6 separate regions of the Homo sapiens genome follow, and all the other regions are reported to be linked to region 4. Evidence: microRNA targets listed by miRTarBase, many of them from high-throughput screens and not tested one by one. Region 4 holds a microRNA gene; each other region holds the end of a gene's coding sequence.
What was found. Region 4 holds the annotated microRNA hsa-miR-324-3p (CCCACUGCCCCAGGUGCUGCUGG, at 2,710-2,732, opposite strand). A microRNA usually pairs through its seed, bases 2 to 8, with sites in the 3' UTR of a target mRNA and lowers its output. Matches are read on the target gene's strand: a 7mer-m8 pairs with bases 2 to 8, a 7mer-A1 pairs with bases 2 to 7 and ends in A, and an 8mer does both.

Region 1 (4,107 bases), not on the chromosome of region 4:
CTGTTTTCTTTTTTAAAAAGTTTGACCAATATTTTAAAGGTACAGAAGATGGCGTAATTTGCTAAAGAGAGGCAGGAAAAAATGGCATGTACAAAGGCTTTATTTGATATTTGTTTAGTGTGTTTCATGCAAGCAATAGAATAGATCATATAGAGAAACCATTGAGTGGTTAAATGTTGCTTTTCTTTGTTTTGTGAATGTTCTAGCTATAAAAATACCTTTTGTATTCAACTCTGTTGAGAGAGATGAGTATTTAAAAGTGTCACCTTTTTTTTCTTTTCTTTTTTTTTTTTTTGGGTAAATTCCTAAATACATTTTAACCTAAAGTTTCAGGAAGAGTCTTTGGTGGATGACTCATTACTTCAAGATGATGATGAAGAAGAAGAGGACAATGAATCTCGTTCTTGGAGAAGATGATTTGACTGATCATTGATCTGCATATGCTAGAACTCTACCTGTGTTTCATTAGTATTATCTAATGTACTTTTACATATTTGTAAAAACAATTTTTGGTAAAATGTGATGAAGATGGATTTCACAAATAGACAAAAAAGAAGAAAACTACCTTCTGATCTTGTATTTTGAAAGATTGATGTTTGCATTTTACTTCAGTAAACAATTGCTAAAGACATCACACTAGAAACATATGCAATGTTTTTATTACATACTTCTACTGGACATCACAGAATTCTTTGGGTTCTTTGTAATTTAATGAATAGGTCTGAAAACTTATGACCAATACTTGTTATAACTTAGAGGACTTTGTTTTATTCCAAATAAGGAATGAATTTGCATTTAAAATCTTAATGAATGTTTTCAAAACTGAATAGATAACATAGTACTCTAACTAAAGTCTCCAAGTTATGTATTATAATATTACATAGTAGTATGCTTAGGCTTTACTATGTATTAGCCTTTTGTTGGACTGTGTATGTATTTTACCATATGGGTTTTAATGATAATGGTGTATGACTGCTTTACATGAGTCCTTATGCATCCAGATGTTATAATAAAGTGGAATGGTCTCTTTAAAAAAAAAAAAGGAAAGAAAAGAGAAAAGCAATGACAAAAAAAAAAAAAAAAAAAAAGCCAAGACAATGTTCCTTGATTTAAAAAAAAAAAGAAAAGAAAAAAGAAAAGAAAAAAATTAAAATAGACCATTCCAGATGGTGATCTACCCTTCCCCCCAATTATCACAAAAGGAGCTATAATCACTAACTTATTCTTAATAATAATGGTTACTGGTACCCTTACAATAATGTACAATCCAATGTTTAAAAATTATACCACTTGAGTTTGGTTTGATCCTATAAATTTTCAACAAATGTCTTAAAATTTAAAAGCAGGCTGATTAGTTTGGAACCAGACTGCAAGTAGAGCTAACATTTGGTGAATAAGAAAACATCACATTACATTTTGGATGTATGAAAGAAAACTTGACCATTTGAAGATATATGAATAAAGAAATGTACTATAGATACTACTTTAGGAAAACACTGTTTGGTAAGTGTTCCAGTCTGATATTTTAAGTGTGTACTTCCTATACTTGTATAAAAATCTTTGATGTTTGCAACAATACTGTGATTTTTTTAAGTGGATTTCTTTTGCAAGTGAACATGATCATTGAAAGTTGATATGGCAGTTTCCAGGAAATAAATGCATTCTTTGTAGAATGGGGGTGGGAGATTACATATTTATATTTTCAAATTCATCATTTTGATTGCAAGTGTTTCTGCCTCTCTTGAGATTATAGTGATAATATTAAAAAATCACATTTAAAAAATTACTTTCTTCCATATTGGGGTCCTCACAATCAAAAGCTGTTGTTCCACCACCACCATAGTCTTCTGCCAGTGGAGTAACTTAAGGATGCTGTTCTTTTTCTTCTTCCCCATACACCCCTAATTGGGGTTGAAGTTGTGTGTATTTTCTTGATGGTAACACTATTTCATAGAAATGCTTTGCCTTGCAATTCGTGTCTACGTTTATATTTAAAATTTCAAAATCAGATTTCAGTTGTCAAAATAGTGACTTTGCTCAAAAAGTCACTATTTTTACTTATATATTTAAATCAAAGATCTATTTTTATGTAGTCTCTTGTATGTTGACTATGTGCTATTCTGATTCATTAGGTAAGTTTGTTTTCTTTTCTTTTTAGTAGTCGTGAAAGGTGCCAAATTGGCAGAGGCTCACGTTTCTTCTCTTTACACCAAACAGGTATTACAAAGAAAGTAAATCTTTCAAAGGCCAGTTAAATCTCCATGCTGATTTTTGGCTTTATAATTTGATTAGTATGTTTTAGCCTGATATTTCAAAAATTATAAAATTCCCTTACAATGTAACTGAAAATACATATTCTGTTTATTTCAGTCCATGAATAGCTAATCAGTTTTCCTAGAACTTAAAATGTTTTAAGCCATGTTGCTTTGAATGAATCAGAAGACAAATATATTTCAGCGTGATCCCAAAGAATGGAGATTAAATCTTACCAACATTAATTAGGTTTACAATTATATTATTCATAGTATTAATATTATTTTAATTATAAATATTACTTAGTATTAAGTTGCTACTGAATTTTTTACTTGTTTATAAATACTAGCACTCTACATGTACTTTCATATGTTTTCATTTAAAACTTAGGAAGGAGTTGTTCATTTCCATTTTATAGATAAGGAAACTTAGGCTAATAGAGATGGAATGATTTGCCCAGTCATAGCTAGTGGGTGAAAATAGATTTGAATGCAAGCATTCTGATTTCAGTGCCAATTTTTTTTTTTTTTAACTCTACGTTGATGCTGCTGCTTTCCTAATTATTGATGGAGTGGAACATGAGATTGTGTTTATAGTAAATATGGTAGTTCTTGCCTCAAAGATACTGCACAAAATTAGCAGACTACTTGGTCATTCGCCAGTTCATACTTATACCCTCCCTTTTAATACAGCACTTTGTTCATATCTCTGTTACAGTACTTACATTGTAATATAATTTATCTGGTTTATGTCTGTCTTCCCCACTAGATTACAAGCTCCTCTAGGAAGGTGGACCATGTCTTATTCATCATTTTATCTTTAGTGCTTATCACAAAGCCAGGCTTATAGTGGGCACTCAAATGTTTGTTGGATGAATTAATGAATGAATGAATGCATATTTAAATATCCAATCATAGAGTGACAAATACCTCCCTTGTTAATTCTTATCAATTTTCCAAAAATCTCTTGAAGATCTCCTCAGTCACTGGGAGCATTTTGCTAAGCAATTGATACAGTTTGAGTTTGTCACTTGTGGGGTTACAAGTACTGATGGAGGTATACACATATGTAGGCTTAGTGGAATTTCCACAACATTTAGTAAGGCATTAATATTTTGGACTAATAAATGTTGTCTGTTTCAGAGGTAAAATACACTTTTGGTTTCTGTCAGTGTATATGATTAGAAATGCTAAGAGCCACCAGTCTAGTCCATCCCACTAATTTTTATATCCAAAGGTGATCTAGTTTAGAATACTAGACAAGGTTTATATGATATTTAGTTTTTGGTCCCAATTCTGCAACTAACTCTGTGGCCTTAGACAAGTCTCTTGCCTTATCCAGGGCTGTTTCCTTGTCTGTAAAATAAAGAGTTGGACTAGATGATCTCTAAGGTCCCTTTTACATCTATAGTTTCCTTGGTACTATATTAGTGTTTGAGACAAAACAATTTAATATATCTAAGCCAGTTCTCCCTGTTATCGTTGTTGTTTTCTATCATTTTATCATTGGAAACAACTTGGATTTGGTTATGGTAATTTATATGATGCCTCTTGGTACAGTTTTGTGTATAGTGTTCCTACATGCTTGCATTTGCCAGTACAAATTACATTCAGCCTATAAAATAGAGATGAACTTCTGTATTCACCAGCACTTCCTTTTTCCAATTGTAACTTTTCATTTTCCTTCTAAATTCAGAGTTTTAAAGTAGAAGTACTTGCTAGTAATGCAGATAGAGTCAGTTCTCTCACCAATATGGATTTAAATTGTCCTTTCCATCTCAGTTTACTCTTTTTTAAAAAAAAAACAAACCAATATGCTACCTGAAACTAGAAACACATTTTTAATTCTGCAGCT
Region 2 (4,107 bases), not on the chromosome of region 4:
GGAGTTTTCTATTTTAAAGAGGAATCTGAAAGCAATAAGCTCTTTGGTCTTCTTAAGATGGCTACACCTCAATTTAAGATGGGGTATTCTTTCACTAGTTGAGGAGTAGAAGAGGATGACCAGCTAGACTCCCATGGAATTGGAACTCCTATTCCTTGCTTAGACATTACAGGTTATGCTTTGAGATCTCTTTGGGGTGAAGGATTGAAATTAAACCCTGAGCCACCGTGTCCTTGTAGAGCACAGAGTAGAGAACAACTGGCAGCTTTGAAAAAACACCATGAAGAAGAAATCGTTCATCATAAGAAGGAGATTGAGCGTCTGCAGAAAGAAATTGAGCGCCATAAGCAGAAGATCAAAATGCTAAAACATGATGATTAAGTGCACACCGTGTGCCATAGAATGGCACATGTCATTGCCCACTTCTGTGTAGACATGGTTCTGGTTTAACTAATATTTGTCTGTGTGCTACTAACAGATTATAATAAATTGTCATCAGTGAACTGTGTTTGATGCCTTCTTCTATCTGGAAGAGATAGACAGACACCAATGGACTGCTAAAATGGATTAGAGGCGTCCCTGCATCCAGGAACCCACAGACAATGCACAGTGTGATAAGTGCTATGAAACAACACGAGTTGGGGGGATAGGTGTGACACAGACAAAGTACCCCTCCCCGTCTAATTAGAGGTGTTCAGAGAAAGCTTCCTGAAGGATAAATCCCAATCTGAAGCATAAAGATCAGGAGGATCCTGGAGATCCGAAGGAGTCATTGCTTCAAAAGATACAATTAGGCCAGGTGCGGTGGCTCATGCCTGTAATCCCAGCACTTTGGAAGGCCAAGGTGGGTGGATCACCTGAGGTCAGGAGTTCAAGACCAGCCTGGACAACAGTAAAACCCCATCTCTATTAAAAATACAAAAATTAGCCAGGTGTGGTGGCACGCACCTGTAGTCCCAGCTACTCAGGAGGCTGAGGCAGGAAAACCACTTGAACCTGGGAGGTGTAGGTTGCAGTGAGCCGAGACTGTGCCACTGCACTCCAGTCTGGGTGACAGAATGAGACTCTGTCTCAAAAAAAAAAAAAAAAAAGATACAATTGAAAGTACCATCAGTTAAAACAGCATTTTGCATTTTTAAAATGGTTTAGAGGATACTTAATATGAGCTAGTCATCCTTGTTCTAATTTTGTAGATTGAGAGAACTGGAATTAGAAATCATGTGATTTATACAGTCACTCAGCACCTTGGCAGTGAGACTTGTGTCCAGGTTTTTTGACTACTAAACCAAGTCTGTTATTAGCAGAAAATCAGAATTATTTCTTAGGTTATATTTTGCTTTGCCAAGTATTTTGTTTCAAATTAGACTTGAGGGCCTAGTATAACTAAATTATTATACAAACTAGTTGTGTAACTCCTCTAGGCAAAAAAATTTGAGGTGACATTTGGGCCATTAGCAAAACATTTTCAGTTCACCAGTTCAGTAGAGTATTTGCCCAGGATTGTAATGAGTTATTTGTTCTAAGACCCTATCTATCTCACAAGGGCCTGTAGGACCATTGAGTGATAAAAGCTTGGAGAAGTCGCATTGACCTTGTCTGTACAGACAAAACACTAGATAGTTTGACTTGCCCATGAAACTGAACACAGCCAGGTGTGGTATGTGCCTACAGTTCAGCTACTTGGCAGTCTGAGGCAAGACGATTGCTTGAGCCCAGGAGTTCCAGACATGCCTGGGCAGCATTTTGACCCCATCTCTTTAAAAAAAAAAACAAAAAACAAAAAACTAAACTTTGAATTATAATGATTATAATGTTGCTGAATCTCAGCACTGAGGCCTCAGTAGTGCCTATAAATCTTGCAAGTGGCCAGCAACAAAATAACCTGAAAAGATGAAGTTCAAGAAACAATCATACTAAGTCAAATGCCTTTTATTTTAACATTATTAACAGTGCAACACTTGAAAAGTTTAAAAATTGGAAACAAGTATTAGCAAACATCTTTAATTTTGCATATTTGTAACCAAAAAAACAAGGTATACAAAATCCCCTGAATTTGTACATGATGGTGTTTTTTTGACTTATAATCAACAATTGCCTTACTAAGAGTGATGTTCCTGAATTGTTTCCTCAGTAAAGGTGTACCATAGGCTGGGTGCGATGGCTCATGCCTGTAATCCCAGCACTTTGAGAGGCCGAGGCAGGCGGATCATCTGAGGTCAGGAGTTCAAGACCAGCCTGGCTAACATGGCAAAACCCCATCTCTACTAAAAATACAAAAATTAGCCATGTGTGGTGTTGGGCACCTGTAATCCCCGCTACTCGGGAGGCTGAGGCAGGAGAATTACTTGAACCTGGGAGGCAGAGGTTGCAGTGAGCTGAGATTGTGCCACTGTACTCCAGCCTGAGAGACAGAGTGAGACTCCATCTCAACAACAACCAAAAAAAGATTAAATAGGCTAATTTAAATATATCTGAACTTTGTGAAAATGGTAACTCATGGTCTTTTTGTTATGATATACCTGTGGTTAATTTTTCTATCATGCTGCAGTAAAAGCAAGATGTAAATACTGAGTAATATCACAAACATGTTTGAATCCTAAAAGAATTTATGTGACATGAGCCAGTAACCACTGAAAAAACAGCACAGGTCATAGGTGGTTCTTAGAATCAGGATAATTTGGAAAATACTACAGCAGTGGTTCCATGAGCCAGCAGTGTCAGCATCACCTGGGAACTTGTTAGAAATGCAAATTCTCGGCAGGGCGCGGTGGCTCTTGCCTGTAATCCCAGCAATTTGGGAGGCCGAGGTGGGTGGGTCACAAGGTCAGGAGTTCGAGACCAGCCTGGCCAATATGGTAAAACCCCGTCTCTACTAAAAATCCAAAAATTAGCTGAGCATGGTGGCGGGCACCTGTAGTCCCAGCTACTCGGGAGGCTGAGGCAGAAGAATCGCTTGAACCGGGAGGCGGAGGTTGCAGTGAGCCAAGATCGCACCACTGCACTCCAGTCTGGGCAACAGAGCAAGACTCCGTCTAAAAAAAAAAAAAAAAGAAATGTAAATTCTCAGGCCCCACCACAAACCTGCTGAAACGAGGGGTTTGACTCAGCAATCCTTTAACAAGCCCTCCGGTTGATTCTGTCATGTATGCACCAAAGTTTGACGATCATTGTAGTACAGGTAGTTTCTCATGGAATCTGCTGGCATTTTTGGGTAAACACTTTTATAAAGACAGATTATTAGGTATAATAAAAGTAACTATATATGTTTAATATAATTCATAATATGAATGTGACTTTAGAATTTAGAAATAAATGGTTCTTGTATGGAACTTGTTAACATTTGAGAACACAGCATTCCACAGAATACAGTTTGGGAAATACTTCACTTGTATAATATATTTATTGCCTTAGTCAAAATTCTTTTTGTCCTCCGCCTCCCACTGCTTCACTTGACTAGCCTAAAAAAATAAAAAATAAAATCCTTTTTGTTTACATGTAACAGAAACCAGCACTGGCTGTCTAAAGGGGAAGAAAAAGAGTAATTTACTGGAAGAAATAGGGGCTATTGTCTCACAGAATCTCAAGAAGATTTCAGCAAACAAGACTCAGGAAAAAAAGGGACAGCAGTAGCCAGAGGAGTTCTGTGAACTTACAGGAGCAGATCTGTCTAAGCAACTTCTAAACCCTCTGGGTCAGAATCGGGCTGGCTGGGCTGGGCGCAGTGGCTCCCCGCTGTAATCCCAGCACTTTGGGAGGCAAAGGCGGACGGATCACTTGATCCCAGGAGCTTGAGACCAGCCTGGGTAACATGACCAAACCCCATTTCTGCAGAAAATACAAAATAATAATAATAATAATAATAATGGCGGTACAGGCCTGCAGTCCCAGCTACCTGGGAGGCTGAGGTTGAAGTGAGCTGTGATCATGGCACTGTACTCCAGCCTAGGCAACAGAGTGAGACCCTGTTTCCAAAAAAAAAAAGAATCATTGGGGTGCTTTTTTTTATATATTTGAAAGAGTTCTATAGAATTTTATGCAGTGAAGTTATTTAACAATCGCAGAATTAATGGAGCACTTTAAAATTATTTGCTCATTAAATCTCATATT
Region 3 (4,107 bases), not on the chromosome of region 4:
TATGCAATGAATGTGGGAAAGGCTTCACCATGAAGAGCCGTATGATCGAACATCAACGAACTCATACAGGAGAGAAACCCTACATATGCAGTGAATGTGGAAAAGGCTTTCCCAGGAAGAGTAATCTTATTGTACATCAGAGAAATCATACAGTAGAGAAGTCATATCTATGTAGTGAATGTGGAAAAGGTTTTACTGTGAAAAGCATGCTCATCATACATCAGCGAACTCATACAGGAGAGAAGCCCTACACATGCAGTGAATGTGGGAAAGGCTTCCCCTTGAAGAGTCGGCTGATTGTACATCAGCGAACTCATACTGGAGAGAAACCTTACAGGTGCAGTGAATGTGGGAAAGGTTTCATTGTGAATAGCGGACTGATGTTACATCAGCGAACTCATACTGGAGAGAAACCGTACATATGCAATGAATGTGGAAAAGGTTTTGCCTTTAAGAGCAATCTTGTTGTACACCAGCGAACTCATACTGGAGAGAAACCCTTTATGTGCAGTGAATGTGGAAAAGGCTTCACCATGAAACGCTATCTCATTGTACATCAGCAAATTCATACAGAAGAGAAATCTTGTATATGTAGTGAATGTGGAAGAGGCTTTGCCAAGGAAACAGAGCTTGCTTTACATAAGCAAGTTCATACTGGAGAAAAACCTTATGGATGTAATGAATGTGGTAAAGGCTTCACTATGAAGAGCCGTCTAATTGTTCATCAACGAACTCATACAGGAGAGAAACCCTTTGTATGCAGTGAATGTAGAAAAGCCTTCTCCTCAAAGAGAAATCTCATTGTACATCAGCGAACTCATAATGGAAACAAACCCTGACAATGCAGTGGACATGTTCATGCCTTTGGGAAGAAAATCTGCCTTGTACAACATCAGAGATTTCACAGTATAGATTTTCTACATGTGTACTGAGTATGAAAAATCATATTTCAAAATCCAGTGTTATTCACTAGGATGAATGCTATCAATGTCAGAAAGGCTTCAACATGAATTCAGGCTCTGAATTCTTTGATGTACCAATGTATAGAAAATTACTCATCTGAGAGAGAGTCTGTGGATTGGGGGTAACCTTTCATTTGTCAACCTTCATTAAAACTATGACAACGTCCACATGACAAATGTGTAAGGTACATAGTCCTTTTGCAGAGAATCTGAACTGATTACATACAAACAAATTCATGCAGAGAGAAAACCACGTTAGTAATGTGAACTGATTAAACAGCAGTGTGCTCCTAGCATACATGCATATAGGCAGTGTAGAGCAGCCTGTTGCTAGATTTTCACCCTTGGAAGACAATGCAATTTCCAGGAGCGAATTTTAATGAATGCAGAGAATGCACTAGTGCCTTCGGTGATTAATTACCTCATATTTTATGTCACAATAAACATGTAGGAAATAAACTTGATACATCCAATGCAGAAAAGTCTTGAAAATTTTCTAAGTAACTATGTCTTGAAAAGTATTTACTGAGATAAATCTTACAAAGGAGTAGGCTAGGAAAGCCTTCTATGGGAAGAAAGACCCTATCTCTTCAGTGATCATAATAGATCATCAATGAACTTACACATACTAGCAGCATTATCATGGGAAAGCCTTTGCCCAGAAATAAAACCTTAACAGTTGGCAGATATATTTCATACTGGAGAACAAGTTTCAGATGGCAGTGAATACACGAGGATTTCAGTGATACATGCTGCCTCATCATCATTACTTCATACAGAAATAAAACTTATATGAAGAGTAACTTTAAAAAGGATCAGGAAATTCATGAAGTAAAAAAGTCTCATGAAAATGATACATAATGCCGGGCATGGTGGCTTGCACCTGTAATCCCAGCACTTTGGGAGGCCAAGGTGGGTGGATCACTTGAGGTCGGGAGTTCGAGACCAGCCTGACCAACATGGTGAAGCCCCCCTCTCTACTAAAAATACAAAATTAGCCGAGCATGGTGGCTCACGCTTGTAATCCCAGCTACTCTGGAGGCTAAGCTGGAGAATCACTTGAACCTGGGAGGCAGAGGTTTCAGTGAGCCAAGATTGCGCCATTGCATTCCAGCCTGGGCAACAAGAGCGAAACTCTGCCTCAAAAAAAAAAAAAAAAAACCATATTTGAGGACTGTCACAAATCTAAACTCATGATACACTTGATATCTATTCTGTGACAGCATACCTTGCATCATATTATCAATGATTCCATAATTGTAAAGCGGGCTGTTCTTATCACTGATTAAATTTTAATCCTATATATAACACAGGTGTTTTCTGTGCCAATCTGGTGTTATTTATTAGTTCTTACATATTATAGGCCCCAAATTTATTTTTTTCAATTTACTGATAAATGTAATTCAGTATATTTGGATGTGTTTATCCAAGTTACTAGGTACCATTATGTAGTTTACAAAAATGCCTTAAATGTTATTTTTCTAAAATTTGTTTTGAAATAATTCTAGATTCACAAGAGATTACAAAATATACAAAAGTTTCCTGAGTATTCTTTGCTTAGCATCATCAATGTTATCTTACATAACCATAATAATAAAAACCACGGAGTTCTGCTCTTGTTGCCCAGGTTGGAGTGTAATAGCACGATCTTGGCTCACTGCAACCCCGCCTCCCAGGTTCAAGAGATTTTCCTGCCTCAGCCTCCTAAGTAGCTGGGATTACAGGCACCCACGACCACGCTCGACTAATTTTTGTATTTTTAGTAGAGACGGGGTTTCACTGTGTTGGCCAGGCTGGCCTTGAACTCTCGACCCCGGGCGGTCCACCCGCCTCAGCCTCCCAAAGTGCTGGGATTACAGGCATGAGCCACCACGCCTGGCCTCCTCTTGCTACCTCTTTATACTCACACTGTCCTCCCAATATGACCCATGGTAGCCACTGATCCCATTACCCTAATTTTGTTATTTCAAGAATGCTATTAAAATGGAATCGTAAGGTACGCAAGCTTTGAGATAGGGCTTTGTTCACTCAGCAAATTACCCTTAAGATCTATCCAAGTTGTTAGGTGTCTAAATAGTTTTAATTTTTGTTACTGAGTTAGTATTCTTTTAAATGGATGCACCAGGGTTTGTGTATCCATTCACTGTTGATGGACATTTGGGTTGTTTCCAGTGTTTTGCTGTTATAAATAAAGATGCTGTGACTATTTGTGTACCCGATATTGTGCGAACGTTAAGTTTTTATATATTTGGGATAGACACTGGGGGCATGACTGCTGGCGAATATGGTAAATGTGTTTAACTTTATAAGAAATGGCCAAACTCTTTCCCAGAGTGGCTGTACTAGTTTACATTCCCACCACCAATGTGTAAGCATTCCATGCCCTTTCTAGCTCTTGGCATTGCCAGTGTGCTTTAGCTTTCCTATTAGGTGTGTGGTGGTATATGATCATGGCCTCAACTTACACACCCCTAACACAAAATGATATTAAGCATCTCTACATCCACTGAGAACCATATCAAGTAAAATTGTAACTTTTGCTTCCAACCAGCAAACCCAATGTTTAAAACTCAAAAGAATATTATATTTTATAATATATTTACCCTTTCTGTTCCTTTTTCTTCATTCCTGATGTAATATTTCCTTTAGTTATTTCCTTTTTGTGCGAACTTCCTTAATCATTTCTCTTTGAGCAGGCCTGGTGGCAAAAAATTATTAGTTTCCCTAGAAACAGGGTTCCTGTTTTCTCTATCCAGAGTTATTTCCCTTGATCTAATGAGATTTAATCCAGTTTATAAATGGTGAGTTCTCTTTATAAAAGTAATAGACATTTGCCATATAGTATTGTGGCAGAATTCAATCCCTGACTCCATATTGAGTAATTTACTTCTTTGAAAATATTTTTTGAGCTTCTACACCATGGCAGGCATGTTGTAGGCAATGGAGACACATCAATGAACAAAACAGGCAAAGTGCTGGCTTTGATATGACATACAGTCTGGTGAAGGAGACTGAGTAAGATAAATACAAAATCGAATTCAGTTAAGTGCTAGGAAGAAATATAAAGCCTGGTAAGTTCATAGATTGTAACCTGAGTTATTTTAGGAAGAGTTTTCAGGATAGGCTTTTCTGTGCAGATATAATT
Region 4 (4,000 bases):
CCCAGGAATCTAAGTCCTTTGCTGTGGGAATGTTCAAAGGCCAGCTCACCACAGATCAGGTGTTCCCATACCCGTCCGGTAAGGGAAGGGATAATCAGAGCTGGGTGGGGCCAGGGTGGTTTCCCCTGCCAGCCTGGCCTGACCAGCCTGTCCCCCACCCTCTGCAGTGCTCAACGAAGAGCAGACACAGTTTCTTAAAGAGCTGGTGGAGCCTGTGTCCCGTTTCTTCGAGGTAAGGAATGACTCGGGGCTTGGTCCCTGGTGAGGTGTTTGGAGATGTTAAGCTCAAAAGGAGCCTGGATGTGGGATCCTGTGCCTTCCCCAGGAAGTGAACGATCCCGCCAAGAATGACGCTCTGGAGATGGTGGAGGAGACCACTTGGCAGGGCCTCAAGGAGCTGGGGGCCTTTGGTCTGCAAGTGCCCAGTGAGCTGGGTGGTGTGGGCCTTTGCAACACCCAGGTGAGGGCGCCCTATCGCCACATCCCAGTATGCCATACCCCAGCTTGGCAGACTCAGCTCTTTTGCCATAGACCTAGAGACTAGGGCTAAGGTCTCTTCTAAGCACCTGCCCTGGGTGCCTGTGGGATGGATGTTAACTGTCCAAACATAACACAATTTACATGCAGTCCCCTAGGCCTGAGCCATGGGCCTCACCCTGGTTCCCAAGTCCTTACAAATCTCTAAGTTGGGGATTGCCTAACAATAGACTGACTAGTAGCAAGTCACCCTCCTACCTAGACCTAAGACAGACCAGCATTCTCTGCTGTGCCCTTTGCACACCCCACTTCTTTTCTACACACTGGGGATGGCCCAGGTCAGGCACTGCCCTAGGTCAGGAACTGCCCTAGGTCAGGAACTGCCCTGTTGCCCACACTCTCCTGTTAAGGTCAGGTCCCCCTGCAGCCAGTGACAACCCCAGATTCCTGCTTCCCCTCCAGTACGCCCGTTTGGTGGAGATCGTGGGCATGCATGACCTTGGCGTGGGCATTACCCTGGGGGCCCATCAGAGCATCGGTTTCAAAGGCATCCTGCTCTTTGGCACAAAGGCCCAGAAAGAAAAATACCTCCCCAAGCTGGCATCTGGTGAGGCAACCCTAGGAGAGCCAGGGATTGGGGGGCACACTGGGCTTGGCACAGATTAGGCCAGTTGGCACTTAGATTATCAGATGGCTGAGCATTTCAGTTGGGGGAAGGTTTTGGGGAGGCATCACAGTGTGCTGGTTGGGACATGCAAAAGAACTGGATACTCCCAGGTGTTAAGGGGGAACTGCCTGCTGGAGGGATGGGGAAGTGGGCCGAGGGGACTTTGAAGCTCATCAGAACTTGGGGTAAAGTAGCTCTCTCCCCAACAGGGGAGACTGTGGCCGCTTTCTGTCTAACCGAGCCCTCAAGCGGGTCAGATGCAGCCTCCATCCGAACCTCTGCTGTGCCCAGCCCCTGTGGAAAATACTATACCCTCAATGGAAGCAAGCTTTGGATCAGGCAACCTGCCTCCCATTTCTCCCCTTCTCCTCCGCCCAATTCCAGGCCCCACTGCTCCCCGTCCTCCACGCCCTGAATATCCCATTCTTCCACAGTAATGGGGGCCTAGCAGACATCTTCACGGTCTTTGCCAAGACACCAGTTACAGATCCAGCCACAGGAGCCGTGAAGGAGAAGATCACAGCTTTTGTGGTGGAGAGGGGCTTCGGGGGCATTACCCAGTGAGTGAATTTGGGTTGGGGGAGCTTAGGACTGAGGGGCAGGACTGGGCTCCTGGGCAGATGGCTGTTGCAAGTCACCCTGGGGACGTGTGCAAAAGCCAAAGCAGGTGGACTGAATGTGGCCTTTGGGACTAATATGTATGCAACTGAGCTAAAGTTTTGGCTCCAGCAACCAAGTCCAACACAAAATAGGACATAGCCAGGCCTCCTTAGCCCTCAGGGCCTGAGGGGAAGTGGTGGCTGTAGCCTCTAATAGTCTAGTGGTCGTCATTCCTCCCTGGTGCATAAGGAGCGAAGGAGCAGTTTTTCCCCCAGTGACAACCTGTTGAACACACCTCTGCTTTCCCACACTGCCCTGACACAGTGGGCCCCCTGAGAAGAAGATGGGCATCAAGGCTTCAAACACAGCAGAGGTGTTCTTTGATGGAGTACGGGTGCCATCGGAGAACGTGCTGGGTGAGGTTGGGAGTGGCTTCAAGGTTGCCATGCACATCCTCAACAATGGAAGGTTTGGCATGGCTGCGGCCCTGGCAGGTACCATGAGAGGCATCATTGCTAAGGCGGTGAGTACCCTGCCCGAGTCCCTAGGTAACCCAAACAGAAGTCTCACTGTCCCCCTTGCCATGTGTCCCTGATCACTTGCAGGCACTCCCTACACTAGAAACTCCTCCCCTACCAGCAGCCCGACTTGCTAGCTTAGGTCTCCATCCAGCGTAGACTGAACTCTGGTTGTATGCAAAACCCATCCCTCTGGCGCAAGCCCAGCCCCTCTCCTAGGGAGACTGCAGAACCACACTGAACCACAGCGGGATGTGTGGACCCTCTTCCAGGTAGATCATGCCACTAATCGTACCCAGTTTGGGGAGAAAATTCACAACTTTGGGCTGATCCAGGAGAAGCTGGCACGGATGGTTATGCTGCAGTATGTAACTGAGGTGAGGGCCTCCCAAGCCCCTCTCCCTGGAGCCCTGGGGCTTTCTTCCCAGTCGGGTCAGACTACAACCCCCAGCAGCACCTGGGGCAGTGGGTCTCCAGCTTTACACCAATGCCCTAGGGGATGCGGGGAGGCATAGTCAGCTCAGCTTCTGCGAAGAGAGACAGCAATGATGTTCTGCTCAGGTGCCTGCCAGCAGTACCAGAAGTTAATTCTACCTCATCCCTTACATCCACCCCTTTTAAGAAAACAAATACCTGGAAGCACCTGATGAACTGACCCAGAACAAGTATCTGCCTGACCTGACAAGCTAGGTCAGCCCTTATCTTGGAGATCTGGGTGATGAGGCCAAGTCTGACAAAGCCCTTTGCAATTTTCCTTCCCATGTCCCAACTATGCAACCTCAGTCCATGGCTTACATGGTGAGTGCTAACATGGACCAGGGAGCCACGGACTTCCAGATAGAGGCCGCCATCAGCAAAATCTTTGGCTCGGTGAGGTCCCAGGCATGCTGGGAGGGAGTCCAGTTTGGGTGCTCAGCTCCCAAAACCAGTCTCATCTGTTCTTTGTCCCTAGGAGGCAGCCTGGAAGGTGACAGATGAATGCATCCAAATCATGGGGGGTATGGGCTTCATGAAGGTACAGGACGGTCTTCTGCAGAGCCTCGGCTGGGCCAGGGGTGGGTAGGCACATCTCAGCACGGGCATATAATTTGTGTGGCCCTGTGCTAGGAACCTGGAGTAGAGCGTGTGCTCCGAGATCTTCGCATCTTCCGGATCTTTGAGGGGACAAATGACATTCTTCGGCTGTTTGTGGCTCTGCAGGGCTGTATGGTAAGACAGAGAATTGGGTGGGGGTAGAGGTGGGGAGGACAGTGAGTCCTGACTGCTGGACCCTCTTCCCCCATAGGACAAAGGAAAGGAGCTCTCTGGGCTTGGCAGTGCTCTAAAGAATCCCTTTGGGAATGCTGGCCTCCTGCTAGGAGAGGCAGGCAAACAGCTGAGGCGGTAGGCTTAGGGCCAGAGCCAGGGGAGGGCAGGGTGGTGTATGGCAACTAACCAGTCATTCTCCCTCTTCCTCTCAGGCGGGCAGGGCTGGGCAGCGGCCTGAGTCTCAGCGGACTTGTCCACCCGGAGTTGAGTCGGAGTGGCGAGCTGGTAAGTGGCCAGGGGTCCAGGAGAGCCTGCATCAGGGACTGCAGCCGATGGCCCCTCTGAGCCCCGCACTGTCCCCATCTCTTAAGGCAGTACGGGCTCTGGAGCAGTTTGCCACTGTGGTGGAGGCCAAGCTGATAAAACACAAGAAGGGGATTGTCAGTAAGTGAGCTCTACACCATTCCGCCCCTCCCTTTCCTCTCCTTGA
Region 5 (4,107 bases), not on the chromosome of region 4:
CCATGAGCATTGTTCTAGGTCCCCGACGCCCCAGGCCCCATGCCTGAAAATGGGGGAGGAGACACTGCCACCCCTCCCTTGAGAGAAGCCTCAGCTTGACACCCACCCCGCTGGGGAAAGAACAGCAGAGACACACGGAGAAATTCTTAAATAGGCTTCTGGGCTTTTATTCAAAACAACACTGGTGGTGGCTGCCGCTTGGTTTCTCTACACCCGGGCCATGGGCCAGCAGGTACCAGCGCCATCAGCAACTAGGAGGGAAGTTCATTCACACCATAGAAACTGTACAGCGACTGAGAGTGCTAGAGTCACGGCGGCGGCCCAGGCCGAGGGCTTTCTGGAGGAGGTGGCCTCTGCCTCCTCAGTAGGCTGCAGCTTGGCCCAGGCTCTGCCAGGAACACTGATTATTGCACAAAGACAAAAAAGAGTATGTGTATCTGGGCTAAAGAGCAGCTTCTAAGACCCCAAGCCCTTACACAACGCAGCAAACGGGGCTGGGGTTGGCCCTGGAAGCGGAAGGCTCTGAGCTGAGGATTTGGGGGAAGACAGCAGACGGGCTTTACACACTTTGTCCTCCTTTAAGGGGCTGCCTGGTGCCGGAGAAGGTAGAGCAGGGGAGAGGAAGAGGATTTGGCCAGACTGGGCCGTCTCTGCACAGATGCCAAGGTGCCTGCCCACCACCGCTCTACGGAGCCCAGCAGACAGCTCAGGGACCTGGGTCCCCACTTTCCCCACAGCCAGGCCCATGTGGGTTAGGGCAAGTTTGTGCTTTTGTGATAGACACAAGCCTGAGGCCATGGCCCCAGACCACAGGGTTGGGGAGGAAGGAAGGGCCCTTTGCCCAACCCTCACCCATGTTGACTTGTCCTGGCCAGTGGATCACAGCTTCCCTGGTTCTCATCTCTGTCACCCACAGGAACAAGGTCAAGTGCCTGGGATCGGCAGGTGGGGCCTCCAGGAGCCTGGGACGGGCCAGGCCATCTCCCAGTGCTCCCTGCAAGGAGCTTCTCTGCCTCTGAGCTCAGCTCTTCCACCTTCTCCACACTCCCTGCTCTGTGGACCCTGGAGCCTTCGCTCATGCCCATCCCTTTGCCTAGAACACCTGCCTCGAGGTGTCTGCTTGCAGAGTCACACGGTTCAGGGTAAGGGGAGGTTTCACGTCAGACCTGCCTAGGACGTGTTCCCTGCTCAGCTGCTCTGAACCCATGTGACAACAGGAAAGGCTGCTCAGTGGAGTCGCAAGATGACCTGAGGCTGCTTGACTGGTGTCTGATCCTGTTAACTTGAAGCCCAACCTTCCACATGGTATTCCCAGGCCACACAGCCCCTCTTCTGGGCTCCAATACACGTGTCCCTCCAGCAACACGCGGACTTGCAAAAAGTCAAGTCTGTCTGCTTCCCTCCAACTGCGAGAGCTCAGGGTCAGCCAGGAGCAGTCAAGCCTGCCCAGCTCCACTTCTTCCCCAGACAAGGTACCTCGTTCCACATAAAACCACCTCTGTGGAAAGGGAGGCAGGGCTGAGGCTCTCTGGAGCGGGCAGTGTTGGGCTTGGACCGAGCCATCCCCACAGGTCTACCTGCCCCCAGGGAGGACTGGGCAGTTCCTTCCGCCACAGGCACCTTGCTCAGCATCACAGCTCTAGGGTGTGGAGTAGGGCCCTCCACACCACCCCAGCTTCTTTGCTGCCAGGGCCCTGAAGCATCCTGGGCTGGCTGCTTCCCCTCTCCAGGGCTCAGTTTCCCGGGTGGGCTTGACAACCCCTCCCGGCCCCCTCTCCCTCAGCCCAAAAGGGAAGGGCGCACCCCACACCCTCACCAGCCCGGCCACAAGCTGAGTTCTTCCAAGTCAGAGTTTGGGAACAAGAACAAGGCCCCCCCTTGGCAGGCCCCCCTGAAGCCCTCGGAGGGGGTCTTAGCAAAGGCAAGGTTATTGCTGAAGTACAGCATCTGCAAACTCGTGGCCCCTGCAGCCTCTCCAGATCACTGCCACCAACATGCTCCCAACCTCCTTCTTCAAACTGACTTCATGAAAGTCACTCCCTTTTTAAAAAGTAGCCTTGACCTAAGCAAAATGTCTGTGAAATCACGGGTTCAATGCATTTTTTTCCCAATAAATAGTGAAATAAATGCGTAACTCTTCAAATCAAACACCCAAGTCTAGAACCCGTTTGGGAAGCACTGCTATAGTGAAAGCTGAGCTGCAGTTAGGGGCAGCGGGGAGGAGAGACAGGGGCTGGCAGGTGGGGTGGGAAGATGTGGCCTCCAGGTGACGCGAAAGGCTGGGCATGGGGATGCGGCTGGACCCAGGGCCCAGGCAGGTGCCCCCACCCCTGCCTAGAATTCGGTCAGAGCTGCTTTGCCTTGAACCTACTGGGGCGGGGGCATAGTTGCTCAGGACGGGGACAGCACAGTGTCCAGGAACAGCCACAGCTCAGCGCCCATATGGGGGATAAAAGGCATTAGTGGCTGAACAACTAACTACCTGAGCCCAGGGGCACCTGCAGGGCAGCTGGAGCCAGCCGAGACCAGGCGGGTACCCTAGCCCCTCCAAGCAAGCCACTGCCGGCTCAGTCTCCCGCACCCTTCCTCTGCAGGCTGCCTCCACTCCTGCTCCACCCACCCCCGCCCTCCTGGGGGTGGAACCCACCCCCTCAGAAGTGCTCAGGAGCTGGGGACCTCACCTGGGGCCAGAGCCCCAGCTCAGCCTTGGAGCTGCTCTCCATCCCCTACCCCAGGCCTAAGGAAACACAGCTACTCACCCCTGATTTTTCTAAAGAGAGACATCTAACCGGTGGACTAAGGGGATGTGTGTGCTCTGGGGTGTCTACGAAAGACTTCACAATAACGAGACAGTCAGGATGACAGGACAGACACCCCGACACGTGGGAGCCACGTGGGATCTTAGCAGCGTTTCTTCTTTAAAGGAAAAAAAACACACACACACCCTGAATTGCACCTCTTCTCCAGGGCCTGGTGCCCTCAGAGGCCTGAGGGTCCTCTCCAAGCTACTCTTAACCAGGGAGGAGACATCAAAAAACACAGCTGGGACGCCCCCGCAGGACATGTGCCCTGGGGTGGGTCTGGCCAGAATCCCAGAGCATCAGACAAAAGCCCCGTCCAGGCCCTGGCCCACCTCCCACCTTTAGCACTTTCTGGAAGTCATAAGCTCTCAGTAAAAAAAATAAATATATATATATATGTCTGTCTATGTGTGTGTGTATACACATATATATATATATATATATATATATGCATATATATATATATATGTATGTATATGCACTGGAAGGGCCACCATGGGCCACGCAGGCCTGGCTAACCCAGACTCCGCTCAGCCCGGCTGTCGGGCGCCTGTGCCCTGCGGGCCCTGCGCGATCCCAGGTGTGGACGAAGTATTGCTGTCTGCTCCTGGCTCCTGAGGTAAAGAAGGTGAGACGGGGCGGGCGGTGGGCGGCCGGGGGCCCCTGCGACCCTCATCTCTTCCTCTTGCTGGCGGCGTCTCCCGGCTCCAGCTCTCCGGGGAGCGGTTGCGGCGGGGGCGCCAAGGGGCCCAGGCCCATGGGCAGCGGTGCCCGGCCGGGGGGGTCCTTGCTGCGGTCCGCGGCCCACGAGGGGCTCCGGGCCAGGCCGTGGGCCAGGGCGGCGGCGTGGGGGCGGCCGGGGGCGGCCAGGCTGCTGGTGCTGCTGAACTTCCTGGCGGGCGTGAGGCCGGGGGCTGGCGGCGGGGGCGGCGGGCAGAAGAGGGAGGTGAGCGAGAGGCTGCTGAGGGTCTCCGAGTGCTCGCTGCCCGCGCCCCCGCCGCCCGCGCCACCGCGGCCCTCCTCGTCCGAGGGGTCCATGGAGTCGTGGTGGGTGCAGCCCGGGCTGGTGGAGCCCCCGCTGCTGTGGCTGCGCTGATGCGCCCGCAGCCCCCGCAGGCTGAAGAGGCCCCGGCCGCGCAGGCTCAGGCGGCGGCGAGCGGCGGGGGACAGGCCGGCCCGGGGTCCTGGAGCAGGCGCGGGCGGCCCCAGGGCACGCCGGGGGCTGTCGCTCAGGGTCAGGCTGTCCTCGAGCGTGGTCTGCAGGCTGCCCGCGGAGCTGCTGGGGCTGGCGTCCAGCGACGTGTCG
Region 6 (4,107 bases), not on the chromosome of region 4:
TGGGAAACTAATGCGGCATCAGAGAATTCACACTGGGGAGAAACCTTTTGAATGTAATGAGTGTGGGAGATGCTTTACTTCTAAAAGAAACCTACTTGATCATCACCGAATCCATACTGGAGAAAAGCCCTATCAATGTAAGGAATGTGGGAAAGCCTTCAGTATCAATGCCAAACTAACTAGGCATCAGAGGATACATACTGGGGAGAAACCTTTCAAATGTATGGAATGTGAGAAAGCATTCAGCTGTAGTTCTAACTATATTGTGCACCAGAGAATCCATACAGGAGAGAAACCCTTTCAGTGTAAGGAGTGTGGAAAAGCCTTCCATGTTAATGCCCATTTAATTCGGCATCAGAGAAGCCACACTGGGGAGAAACCCTTCAGATGTGTGGAATGTGGCAAAGGCTTCAGCTTTAGTTCTGACTACATTATACATCAGACAGTCCACACTTGGAAGAAACCCTATATGTGTAGTGTGTGTGGGAAAGCATTCAGGTTTAGCTTCCAGCTCAGTCAGCATCAGAGTGTCCATAGTGAAGGAAAATCCTAATAATGAGAAAGATATAGAAAACTCTTAAGGTTAATGCCAAAATGGATCAAGTATCATCAGATTCATCCATTGAAAAACCTCCAAGAGGGCATGAATATGGCAGAGTCTTCATATGGAAACAGTTTTTATTCTATTCAGTTTAAATCAGGAAAGGATGACCAGTTAAAGAGAAACATCCAAAAATAGCTTTGTTTTGTACCAACAGGAATTAGAAAATATAATGAAAAGATTTCGTTCCCAGCAGCATCAAGAAAAGTAGATTTTCTAGAAATAAACAGTTATGGAGGACTTGTATGGAGAAATTTAAGTCTTCACTGAGGGCCACTTTACAAAGGAAATTTGAATAAATGGAGAGAGAGAGAAGCCTTGTTGTTGGATAGGAAAACCCGTACTAAAGATACTCTACCTACATTAATTTATTTGTTTAATTTTTGACAACAAGCATGTATTACTTTTGAAAAGATGAAAAATAAAGATTTATTTAAAAAAGGAAAAAGGTATGAGTACATTTTTAATTTTCATGTAATTGAGAAAACCTTTCTAAGTATTAGATGAAAGCTAGAAACTATCCACAGGGTATGTACTGATAAATTGACTACTCAAAAACTAAATATTCCTGTATGTTTTTGTTTTAAAGTTTAAAAGATAAAGCGCAAAATGGGGAAATACTTTTGTAAAATTTGTGATATAAAAGTGTAGTATTTGGGCATGGTGGATCAGACCTGTAATCTCAGTGCTTTGGGAGGCTGAGACGGGAAGATTGCGTGAGGCCATGAGTTCCAGACCTGTATGGGCAACATAGCAAGATCCCATCGCTACAAAAAATAATAAAAGCCAGGCGTGGTGGTATGTGCCTGCAGTCCTTGCTGCTTGGGAGGCTGAGGCAAGAGGATCACCTGACTCCAGGAATTCGAGGCTGCAGTGAGCTATGACCACCACTGCACTCCAGCCTGGGTGGCAGTGAGACCCTGTCTCTTAAAACATTAATATCTAAAGATAAATAATTTAGACACACTAACAGGCAGCTTTTAAACAGATACTAAAAAATGACTGTTAAAGTAAGAAGAGGTATTCAATCTCAGTACTCTAAGGTGTGAAAATTAGTAAGTTTTTTTGCATATTACATTGTTATATATGCATACATGTGATACTATGCAGCTGTCAAAAATGACATTTACTATAGATGCCCTTTATATAAGTATAAAATGTAGTCAACAAGATAGCATGTTACAGGGTTTCTATTTTGTAATAACTGGAACTCTTGCATAAACACATGGCTTTTCAGGTCCTGAAGGAAGGTGGCTACCTTGGATTCCCAGTCTCATTGGTGGTTTTCAAGGTCTCTGATGAAGATCTTGGAAGCCTCAAGATACTCTTTGGAAGGGAATCTCTCAACACCTTAAAAAATTCTAAGCAATAGGCTGGGCGCAGTGGCTCACGCCTGTTATCCCAGCACTTTGGGAGGCCAAGGTGGGCGGATCATGAGGTCAGGAGATTGAGACCATCCTGGCCAACATGGTGAAACCCCGTGTCTTCCAAAAATATAAAAATTAGCCAGGCATGGTGGTGCGTGCCTATAGTCCCAGTTACTCAGGATGCTGAGGCAGGAGAATCACTTGAACCCAGGAGGCGGAGGCTGCAGTGAGCCAAGATCATGCCACTGCACTCCAGCCTGGGCGACAGAGTGAGACTCTGTCTTAAAAAAAAAAGATTCTAAGCACTAATAGGAGCAGGCAAGCTAACTATCAGGAAGCTGAAGAACAGCAGGCCCAATAGTAAGTAGTAAGAAAGGGACATGATAACTTCTGCCATCCCCCAAGTGCCACACACCATCTCCTTACCATGCCCACCTGTGAGCTCTGTAAGGCATATGCTGTCTCTGGCCCCCAGGCTCCTTAGAACAGAAGCTAGTCTGCATTTAGTTTAGAATGAGGTTCAAAACCACTGGAGGTTTTCTGAATGTGGGACAGTTATTTAAGATAATTGGACTGGGAGCATCACTCTTCCTTCAGATCCTCATGTTCCAGGACTTCTGACGTGCCACAGATAAAAACAGGAGAAAAGCAATCGCTAGTAAATGAGACTTAACGATCACCAGCAAACCCCAAATCCTCATAAACATCCCTGTAGGCCCACAGATACTCAAGTGTCCTCAAAGTCAGACAGACGAATGAGGCTACACAGAGTGACAAGGAGTAGGGAGGGTGGAGAATTGAAGAGTGCATCCCCTACCTAAAGAAGGCAGCCTCAACTCAGCTGTAGCAAATTCTGGGTAGGCAGCAAAGCAGTTCCAGTAATGCCAAATATTCTGGGTCTTCAAAAAGTTAGAAATCCGATTTTAAAAAATCCGAAATCTCTCTCTGTCCCTCTTTTTGCTTGTTAAGATGAAGGTTATTGTCCCAGAATCCTTGAACAATTTTTAGTAAAAGTCCATTTCTAGATGGTGGTTTTCTTCAATAAATCATACAGCAGAATCTATTTGTGTACACCAGGACAGTATAATAGTATGGAGAAAATAGGGTCATCACCTGTTAATGGTAGTAAAGAAACACTGCTTTTCACAAGACCTTTGATACCAAATGTGTCGGTTTTTCACACGATTCTCCAATTCTCTGCAGACACCAACTGGGTGTCCTACAATTTTTTTTTTTTTTTTGAGACAGTCGCTCTGTCACCCAGGCTGGAATGCAGTGGCCTGATCTCGGCTCACTGCAAGCTCCACCTCCCGGGTTCATGCCATTCTGCCTCAGCCTCCCAAGTAGCTGGGCCTACAGGCACCCGCCACCACGCCCGGCTAATTTTTTGTATTTTTAGTAGAGACGGGGTTTCACCGTGTTAGCCAGGATGGTCTTGATCTCCTGACCTCATGATCCGCCCACCTCAGCCTCCCAGAGTGCTGGGATTACAGGCGTGAGCCACCGCGCCCGGCCCTACAATTTTAACAATTGACACTTTCAGAGTAAGTGAAGACACCACAGGTTAAGGGCTCACTTCCACATGACTGCCCTGCACTTCAGACACAAGTTACAAGTAGAGGGTCCCCAGGTTACCCATGCTTCTGTGTGATAGGGCTACAAATTGGGGGTTCCCATGACCCCCTTTTCCAGCTCAGTAATTTGCTAAAACAGTGCACAGAACTCAGGAAAACATGTTACTATTACCATTTTGTTGTAAAGGATACAAATGAACAGCCAGATGAAGAATTACTTAGGGTAAGGACTGGAGGTTGGGTTATCTTCTCAGACAAATGACGTGGTCCCACCCTTAAGTTTGCTGTAAGTCTGCTCTACGTTCACAGGACTGTGAAAGGGTGGGGCCCCAATCAGAGGTAGTCAAACTGAATTTTATCCCCGGGAGAGTCCAAGGACAGCTGGGGGAGAAATGCCTAGAAAATGCATAATATATACTTTTAAAAGACACATAATCATCATTTTGCCCATTTCCAAGTTTTGGATATCTTTTTTTTTTTTTTTTTTTTTTTTGCACACAGATGAGAAAACAGGTCTGAAGTGTCTTCATATCTCTGGGCCTCCATTTGATCATCTGTAAAATGG

Region 1: miRTarBase lists RBM26 as a target of hsa-miR-324-3p. Seed matches in the 3' UTR shown: 7mer-A1 at 1,852-1,858.
Region 2: the mRNA of ATP5IF1 is a reported target of hsa-miR-324-3p. The part of its 3' UTR that is shown has no 7-base or 8-base seed match.
Region 3: miRTarBase lists ZNF432 as a target of hsa-miR-324-3p. Seed matches in the 3' UTR shown: 8mer at 844-851.
Region 5: the mRNA of CACNA1I is a reported target of hsa-miR-324-3p. Seed matches in the 3' UTR shown: 7mer-m8 at 2,557-2,563.
Region 6: miRTarBase lists ZNF23 as a target of hsa-miR-324-3p. The part of its 3' UTR that is shown has no 7-base or 8-base seed match.

The regions. Positions count from the first base shown.
Region 1 is chr13:79,316,931-79,321,037 of GRCh38, reverse strand. It overlaps RBM26 (RNA binding motif protein 26), which reads left to right. Exons shown (of 22, transcript NM_001366735.2): 22 at 328-2,170. The coding sequence ends at 417. Among named protein-coding and RNA genes, the nearest start is that of RBM26, 87 kb to the left of the region's middle.
Region 2 is chr1:28,237,598-28,241,704 of GRCh38, forward strand. It overlaps ATP5IF1 (ATP synthase inhibitory factor subunit 1), which reads left to right. Exons shown (of 3, transcript NM_016311.5): 3 at 240-503. The coding sequence ends at 381. Among named protein-coding and RNA genes, the nearest start is that of ATP5IF1, 3.5 kb to the left of the region's middle.
Region 3 is chr19:52,030,452-52,034,558 of GRCh38, reverse strand. ZNF432 (zinc finger protein 432) reads left to right here. Exons shown (of 5, transcript NM_014650.4): 5 at 1-3,181. The coding sequence ends at 839. Among named protein-coding and RNA genes, the nearest start is that of ZNF614, 4.1 kb to the right of the region's middle.
Region 4 is chr17:7,220,599-7,224,598 of GRCh38, forward strand. MIR324 (microRNA 324) reads right to left here and starts at 2,781; the gene lies at 2,699-2,781. It overlaps ACADVL (acyl-CoA dehydrogenase very long chain), which reads left to right. Exons shown (of 20, transcript NM_000018.4): 4 at 6-78; 5 at 168-232; 6 at 326-460; 7 at 940-1,084; 8 at 1,354-1,483; 9 at 1,579-1,704; 10 at 2,069-2,267; 11 at 2,535-2,639; 12 at 3,046-3,132; 13 at 3,215-3,277; 14 at 3,370-3,471; 15 at 3,548-3,645; 16 at 3,723-3,795; 17 at 3,882-3,954. RefSeq lists an enhancer at 1-239.
Region 5 is chr22:39,685,772-39,689,878 of GRCh38, reverse strand. CACNA1I (calcium voltage-gated channel subunit alpha1 I) reads right to left here. Exons shown (of 37, transcript NM_021096.4): 37 at 144-4,107. The coding sequence ends at 3,474. Among named protein-coding and RNA genes, the nearest start is that of CACNA1I, 120 kb to the right of the region's middle.
Region 6 is chr16:71,444,539-71,448,645 of GRCh38, reverse strand. It overlaps ZNF23 (zinc finger protein 23), which reads left to right. Exons shown (of 5, transcript NM_001381984.1): 5 at 1-1,049. The coding sequence ends at 553. Among named protein-coding and RNA genes, the nearest start is that of TLE7, 4.5 kb to the right of the region's middle.